Regions from separate parts of the Homo sapiens genome. Here region 1 is linked to region 2. The links come from fine-mapping of genetic effects on gene expression. A gene starts in region 2. The other region holds a variant in brackets. All regions are shown on one strand. Distances are from middle to middle. Region 1 holds the start of LOC105370101 (a long non-coding RNA gene). Region 2 holds the start of GJA3 (gap junction protein alpha 3).

Region 1 (4,165 bases), 40 kb before region 2:
CCTTTTGGCACAGAAGTGAGGAAGAGCAGCTGAGCTGGTCTCGGTCTCCCAGCTCCTGCAGTCTGAGGACCCCGGGATGCTCCAGCCAGGGCAGACCCGCGCGGGGGGTGCCCTTCCCCCACCCCCTTCCCTGCGGGATGCCCCCTTCCCTCGCCTCCCCCGCGGGGTGCCCCTTCGCTTCCCTCCCCACCCCTTCCCCGCGGGGTGCCCCTCCTCCCGGTGTCGCCTCCTTTCAGGTGCCTGCCCCTCCCCCATGTGTCTCCGCCCACGTCCGCCCCACCCCCACGCGTGTCGCCCCCGCCCCGTGTCCTCCCCCGCCCCTGTGGAAGGGAGGCTGGGGCTCCCGGGACCAGCAGGGAAGCAGCTGGCAGAGAACGTTGAGTGTTCTCTCTGCCAGGGCCTTCACCACCCTTTTCGGGGCCCTCACCCCGACCCACACCGCTTCCATTCTTGGGTGCAAAGGGCCTTCCTTAACAGTCGGCGGCAGCTCTGGGGCCGGCGCATTTTTTTCTGTGGGGGACACCCGGCACAAGAAGGGTGGAGGAATGGGGCTGCGCGTCACTCCCACAGCTTCTTAGAGAGCCGTTCGCAAGGAGGACCGAGTGTCACGTGAGTGAGCTGGAGGAGGTCACGTTACCTTCCTCCTGTGAGAGGCTCAAACACAGCTCAGGATTTTACCAGTATGGAGAGAAGAAACCTTCAGGCGGGGCGCGGTGGCGCTCCTGTGGCCCCAGCTACTCTGGAGGCCGAAACAGGAGGATTGCTTGTGCCCGAGTCGAGGCTGCAGTGAAGCCGATTGTTTCACTTTACTCCAGCCTGGGCAACAGAGCAAGACCCTGCCCCGACCCCCAAACACACACACACACACACACACACACACACACACACACACACAGAGAGAGAAAGAAAAAGAAACTTTCGGGAACCGGACAGCTTTTCTGTGCACTGGAAGGCACTCACCCCCCTGGCCTGGTAGACTCCTACCCATGAATCTGATGTCAGCTCAGACGTCTTCCTCCAGCTGCCTGTAGGACGCCTAGACCAGAAAGGGCGCCTCTAGATGCCCTCCTAGTTCTCAGGCCTTTTTCTTCATAGCACGTGTCACCGTTTGTGAGAACAAGTGATTTCTATGATTGAGAACTGTCTCCCCTTCTCGTCTGTGAGCCCTGTCAGTTCGGGGTGTCTGATTCTGCTCCCATGCTCAGTACCCAGAGGCTGATACATAGTATGCACTCGATAAAAAAAGGTTTTTGAGTGAATGAATCAATGTATCTGATCCCAGCTCTGCCTTTTACTAGCTCTGTGACACACTCAGATACTTAGCGTCTCTGAGTTTTACCTTCCACATGTGCACAGTGGTGCTAAGTGTTAAATAAGATTTATGGGAGGCCATTGAATTGGGCTGAGCTCCTGCACTAGGCCCCAGTAGGCCAGACCAAAATGGAATCACTTGTGCTAAGTGCCACGTAATCAAACTGAAACTTAAACAAAACAGGAAAATCCCCCACCAGGGCCAGTTTTCCTGAAAAAATAGGAGACTACCAGCAACCAGTCAAAAGGGGGCCAGTCCACTTGAGCCTGCATAAGAGAGGTTTCCTCCGCTTAAACTCATACAAGGAAATGTGGAGGGGTCCAGGTTGTTGGCGTTTTGAGCAAAGAATTGAACAAAACGCACAAACAAAGCAAGGAAAGAAGGAAGCAACAAAAGGAGAGATTTATCGAAA[A/G]TGAAAGTACGCTCCACAGGGTGGGAGCCGCTGGAGCATAGGGGCTCTTTTTACAGAATTTTCTGGGGTTTAAATACCTTCTAGAGGTTTCCCATTGGTTACCTGGTGTACACTCTATGTAAATGAAGTAGTGACCTGCAACCAGAGGCTGAGGTGAAGTTACAAAGGTTACACCCGATGCAAGCCTCTGTTTGCAAAGTGAAGTTACAAAGTTACAGTTCTATGCAAAGGAAGACTTGGCCCACAATCAAGCTGATTGGTTGTGGGAAGCGACCAATCAGAGGCTGAAGTGAAGTTACAAAGTTACAATCCTATGTAAACGTCTGATTGGCTGCCCTCAGAGACACTTTCAATTTTCCATCTGCCAGGCAGAAAAGGGTGGGGGTTTGCAAAGGGAGTAGCCTCCGGTTTTTTGTTTGTTTTTTCTTTTTTGAGACGGAGTTTCACTCTTGTCGCTCAGGCTACAGTGCAACGGCGCGATCTCCGCTCACTGCAACCTACGCCGCCCGGGTTCAAGCGATTCTCCTGCCTCAGTCTCCCGAGTAGCTGGGGTTACAGGCGCCCGCCAACACGCCAGACTAATTTTTGTATTTTTAGTGGAGACGGGGTTTCACCACGTTGGCCAGGCTGGGCTGAAACTCCTGACCTCAGGTGATCCGCCCACCTCGACCTCCCAAAGTGCTGGGATTACAGGCGTGAGCCACCATGCCCGGCTACCTCCGGTTTTTTTGTTACTTAGGTGTGAAAAGTTGGGGTTTTCCTTTTGATTTAGTTCTAGGAAGTCAGCGTGAAATCGGCCTTAGGTTCCCTGCCTCCAGACCCTATTCTCCGCCTCAGAAAGTCACCCAATGATAACCAATGCACTTTTCTCACCACACGATTTCCTCATTCCTGCTTGAGCTGCCTTACCAAAGCCGATTGTTCTGCAACACCCAGCCGAGTGCCTTCTGTTTTGTAGTCTGGAGGCTGCCTGTTTCATACATTGCTAATAAGAGTCAATTAAATCTTTAAAACTCAATTTGTCAAAATGTTGTTCTTTGGTGTCAGAGACCAATACTGTAGGGAATTTGTGTTCATTGACTGAGCTCAAGTACATAGAACAGCTGGAGGGAAGAGACGCGCAGGGCAAGGTATGAGGTGGGGGCTGCAGGTGCACCACATTCCCACAACTTGGAAACTCTTCCAACCTGCTTGTTCAAGAGCTTTTTTAGAGCTTGATTTCTAGTCCCCTCCCCTTCTCACAGGTCTAGGGGTGAGGCTGAAGGATCCAACCTCCTACTTACCTGGTCTTTCCGGTGACCAACCCCATCCTGAAGCTATCTAAGGGTTCACCCTAAGTCACCTCAGTAGCATAAACTCAGATGTGATCAATAGGTGCTTCATTATGAATAACAAAAGACACTACTATCACTCAGGAAATTCTAAGGGCTTTAGCGGCTCTGTGCTAGGAACCAGGGACAAAGACCAAATATATTTCTCTAAATGTACCCTATCATCCTAATGGGCTCAAGGTGGTATCTTATTGTGGTTTCGATTTGCCCTTTCCCCAGTGATTACTGACATTCAGCATCTTTGGTGCTTATTAGCAATTTGTATGTATTCTTTGGAGAACTGTTTATTCATGTCCTTTGCCCATTTTAAAATTGGGTTGTTTGGGTTGTGCGTGGTGGCTCCTGCCTGTAATCCCAGCATTTTAGGAGGCCGAGGTGGGCAGATCACCTGAGGTCAGGAGTTCAAGACCAGCCTGGCCAACATGGTGAAACCCCGTCTCTACTAAAATTACAAAAATTAGCAGGGCATGGTGGCAGACGCCTGTAATCCCAGCACTTTGGGAGGCTGGGGTGGGGGAATCACGAGGTCAAGAGATCGAAACCATCCTGACCAACATGGTGAAACTCCGTCTCTACTAAAAATATGAAAATTAGCTGGGCATGGTGGCACGTGCCTGTAATCCCAGCTACTCGGGAGGCTGAGGCTCGAGAATTGCTTGAACCTGGGAGGCAGAGGTTGCAGTGAGCCGAGACTGTGCCACTGCACTCCAGCCCCAGTGACAAGAGTGAAACTCAGTCTCAAAAAAGAAAAAAACCAAAAAAACAAAAATTGGGTTGTTTATTTTTTTGTCATTGAGTTTAGGAGTTTTTTGTTTTTTGTAGTTGAGGGTTTGTTGTTGTTGTTGAGTTGCTTATATAGTCTGAATATTAAACCCTTATCAGATATATGATTTACAAACATTTTCTCTCATTCTGTGGGCTGCCCTCTGTTGATAATGTCCTTCGATACACAACAGTTTTTACTTTTGATTGATTTGTCTATTTTTCTTGTTGTTTGTGCTTTTGGTGTTGTAGCCAGGAAACCACTGATGCTAAATCCAGTGTCATAAAGCTTTCCCCTTGTTTTATTCTAAGAGTTTTACAGTTTTAGCTTCTACATTTAGGCCTTTA
Region 2 (4,000 bases):
TTAAAAAAGCAAGCAGTAGGCTGGGCGCGGTGGCTCACGCCTGTAATTCCAGCACTTTGGGAGGCTGAGGTGGGTGGATCACCTGAGGTCAGGAGTTTGAGACCAGCCTGTCCAACATGGTGAAACTGTGTCTCTACTAAAAATACAAAAATTAGCCAGGCGTGGTGGCGCATGCCTGTAATCCCAGCTACAAGGGAGGCTGAGGCAGGAGAATCGCTTTAACTGGGAGGCAGAAGTCGCAATGAGCCAAGACTGTGCCACTGTGCCATTGCACTCCAGCCTGGACAAGAGCAAAACTCTCAAAAAAAAAAAAAAAAAAAAAAAAGAAAAAGAAAAAGAAAAAAAGCAAGCAGTAGAGTACTAACCTAGTTATCATGAGGAATTTTCCACCACTGTAGGAATGAAAATTAAGATGAAACTTTATTATTTTTATTGCCTTTAAGCATTATACAGAAATTGCAGAAACATACTGTTTTTTAGAGACATATATGCTGTTGTCACATATATTGGATTTTTTCCCTCCTCAATTCAGTAAACATTTATTATTATTATAAAACATTATTACCTATTGTGTGTGGCACTGTGCCACACACTGAGGACAGCAAAACAATTAAGATCCAGTCCTCACTCTCAGGAGATTCATTTGCAATCTATGAGAGAGGCAGAGTGGCAAAAAACAGATCAAAATGTAAGTACTACATAGTACTGGGAATAGCTACCATCCAGCGGAGGGAGGAAGAAGGCATGGTGGTAGACGCCTGTAGTCCCAGCTACTCGGGAGGTTGCAGTGAGCCGAGATCGCACCACTGCACTCCAGCCTGGGTGACAGAGCGAGACTCCATCTCAAAAAAAAAAAAAAAAAAAAAAAAAAAAAAGGCTGCGATAAACGTAATTTTTCGTTTCAAATGTAGTGTGTACACGTTATTTTAGCTAAGAGAAATGAATATAATAAGTTAAAATGTGAGTAACATTCAAGAAAACTGGGTCAAAAATATTTTCCTTATTGGCAAAAAATTTTGTTACCCGCCATTCTTTTAAGACAGCTTTCAGCCAGTTAACGGTTCCTGGTTAAGAAACAGTACTGTCTGATTTGTTAGAGTAGTACCGTTTCGTGAATTACTTTCCACTACAGCAACACATGCATTGCCCTTATGAGATGCTTATCTCGATATGAACCAAACTGCTGAGCAGGTGGAATCTGTGCCAAACTAGCTGATGTTTACTTTGAACACACTGATATTCGGAAAATAAATCCCTCTTTTTTCCTCTTTAATCTTTTAATGTTTGTCTTGCACATGGATGGACCGCCAGTGAAGTGATGCGCACATCATAAATCACCATGGTTTTTAATTCCTGGGTGATGAGACCCATAATTCGCTTGTCAGCTGTTTGTATAGAATCATTTTTAAATGGCATGTTTTGGAGACATCTTGATAAAATAAAAACTGGAGTTCTAAAGTTGCAGTCACATATTCACGAACCGAGAACTCTACATGGTAGGATGAATTTTGCTCACTAGTGTGGAGTCGGCAACAAAGCAAATGCAGCCGCGTCACTGCCGTTTGTTTTCTCAAGTCTCCTACGGGAAGGGGCTCGGACAGTGCTTTTCCACTCCTCTGCAAATTCCTTATAGTTGAACACATCATAACAAACATACAGGTCGAGAAATCTGGTCGTGGCATTAATAGCTACAGTGTTTCTTAAAAATAAAAAGTTTTAAAAAGTTTCTGAAAAAAATGTAGGCGAGCCAACCTTGTTTCTAAACAATCCCAACAGGACTTTTAGGAGCACGGCGATGCTGAATGCCCGTGGACGGCTGGGTGCGCGCCGTTAGCTGGCGCGGTGACATCTGCTTAGAGTTTTCAAGCATTTCAGCATCGCTAGGAGCCCTACAGCCTGACGGTCCGGGACAGCCCGGCTTCCTCCACCCGAGGGGGAAAACAACCCCAGGAAAACAACTTAAACTCGGCCTTGGACTGTCCATCAAGGGAAGCCAAACGAGGCGCTGCTCTCCAGACCTCCAGGAGCAAAGGAGGAAGATCAATTATTCCAAAAGTTTCTCACAAATTTCCCGAGCTCCCCACAACTTTTTGAAGAATCCTGAAAGAATCCTAGGGGGCTGGGAGCCGCACACGTGCCGGGGCTCGGCTTCCCAGCTCGGCAGTCTCAGCCCGCTGGGCTCGCCCGGCAGCTCCGCTGCGCCGCCGACCCGCCCGTCCCCGCCCCGCGCTGCCCTCGGCCCCTGTGCCTGGCCTCCGGGGCGCCCGGCCCGCCTTACCCCGCTCTGCCGCGGCGGCGACCCGGGTGCGTTCCTCCGGAGCAGGGCTCCCGGCCGCTCTGAAAAGAATTCCTTTCACACGTGCGGTGCTGCTTCACGCGTGCGCCCCGCGCCAGGGCCCGACCTCCCCGCCCTGATCGCCATCCCTGCAGCCCCAGTGTGCGCTGCGCCCGACGCCCCCAAGCTGCAGCTCAGGACGCCGCGCCACGCCCCCGCCGCCTCCGAACAGCCCCGCCCCGCGCGCTTCCCAGCACGCACACCTACCGCCCCCGCATCCCTACCCTGTACGCGCAGCCACAGCACTCGCCCGCGTCCGCATTCCACACCCTACCCCGCGCGCACGTCCATGCCTAGCGCCTGCATCCCCATCCCGCACCTGCGCGGGCCCTGGGGATGTGGACGCGGGGGCTCTTCCCTGCCGCCTACGCACTCCGGGGCATGCCCGCGCGGGACGTGAGAGGAGAGCCGAGGGCTGTTGGGGCGGGCCCGACCCGCTTGCGGGGCGCCCACCGCACGCAGATGCGCCAGCCCGCGCCCCGCTCGCGCCTGTCCTGGGCTTCGCAGGCCCGGCGAGGTAGCTGCTCTCCGGGCGCTCCCACGGTCGGAGGCGCGTGGGCGTCGGGCACCTAGGTCTCGCCCGCCTGCAGCCGCCTGGGGACGCGGGTTCCGGACGGCTGGCGCGGGGCGGGGCGGGGACCACCGAGCAGGAAGTCCCCGCGGAAGCGCCGCCGGGCACAGCGTGGGTGCTGTCGAGGAGTGGCGCCCGGGCGGGGCGGGAGGTTATAAATAGCGGCCGCCATCCTGCTTCTCTTCAGACACACTTAATTTAGCCGGCAGGCACACGGATGCTTATTTTTAAAAAAAGAACTTGTTTTATTGCGCTCGAGGTGACCGGGAAGGTGTCCCCGCGGGTCACTCGCTCCATCTGGTCCTGGAGACGAGATGCCAGGGCGAGGCCTAACCTGCCTGCTGGCGCCCAACGAAGATTTTAACGTTTTCTGTTCCCTTCGGGGTGGTTTTACCACGCTTGAGAGGGACGCCTACCGCGGAAGGCCGCGGACCGAGGGCGGCATCGCGTCCTTGTCTGCTGTCTGGGCACAGCCTAGAGAGGCCGCGGGTCCCCTCCCCGTCCCCCAAGGTCTGGAGTGGGGTTTGACCAGCCTGGGATATTAACAAATATCGGTGGACTGCATTTCGGTGATCATTCCACAAGCTGAAATGGCTTCAAAATCACCTTTATGAGTAATAAGTTTATTCCAGGAATGTGGCAAAATGCAAGTCTGATAGTTTTCGTGTCTTCATGGAGCAGCTTCCGTCGGCTGCCTTCGTTAGCGTTTAGATCTACTCGGATTAGCAGTTGGCTTGCCCTGAAAAATGCGTTTGTTCTGCTGAGATCTGAATTTAAAGTTATCCCAAGGAGGAAAAACTAAGCTCCTAAAGGCGCATCTAAAATATCTTCTCCCTTTGGGAACTTTGCGGTGTATGTATGGAGTAGGTAGTAGTTACGGAGACTTAGTTTTTAATTTTTAATTGAAAAATGCTACCTTTGAAGGTCTTAAAATACTTGAATATTTTTCTCATTTAAAACATTTTCTCTGAGAAGCACAGGAATAGTTTTTTTTTTTTTGTTGATCACAAAAGCACTAGGAATTGTTAATATTTGTAGTCTGTTTGCCAAATGCTATTATTGGTATTCTGAGGATAAAAATGGAAATATAATAT

The links. PIP is the estimated chance that this variant, and not a neighbour inherited with it, causes the effect.
Region 1: its variant is fine-mapped to the expression of GJA3 in whole blood (TOPMed, PIP above 0.99). The same link has a PIP of 0.9 or more in T cells, blood mononuclear cells, esophagus mucosa and fibroblasts.

What each region holds. Positions count from the first base shown.
Region 1 is chr13:20,118,721-20,122,885 of GRCh38, forward strand. LOC105370101 (a long non-coding RNA gene) reads right to left here and starts at 1,069. Exons shown (of 3, transcript XR_941719.3): 1 at 985-1,069. The variant A/G (reference allele first, on the strand shown) is at 1,725.
Region 2 is chr13:20,158,612-20,162,611 of GRCh38, forward strand. It overlaps GJA3 (gap junction protein alpha 3), which reads right to left and starts at 2,441. Exons shown (of 2, transcript NM_021954.4): 1 at 2,279-2,441. RefSeq lists silencers at 2,172-2,261, 2,422-2,501, 2,732-3,091.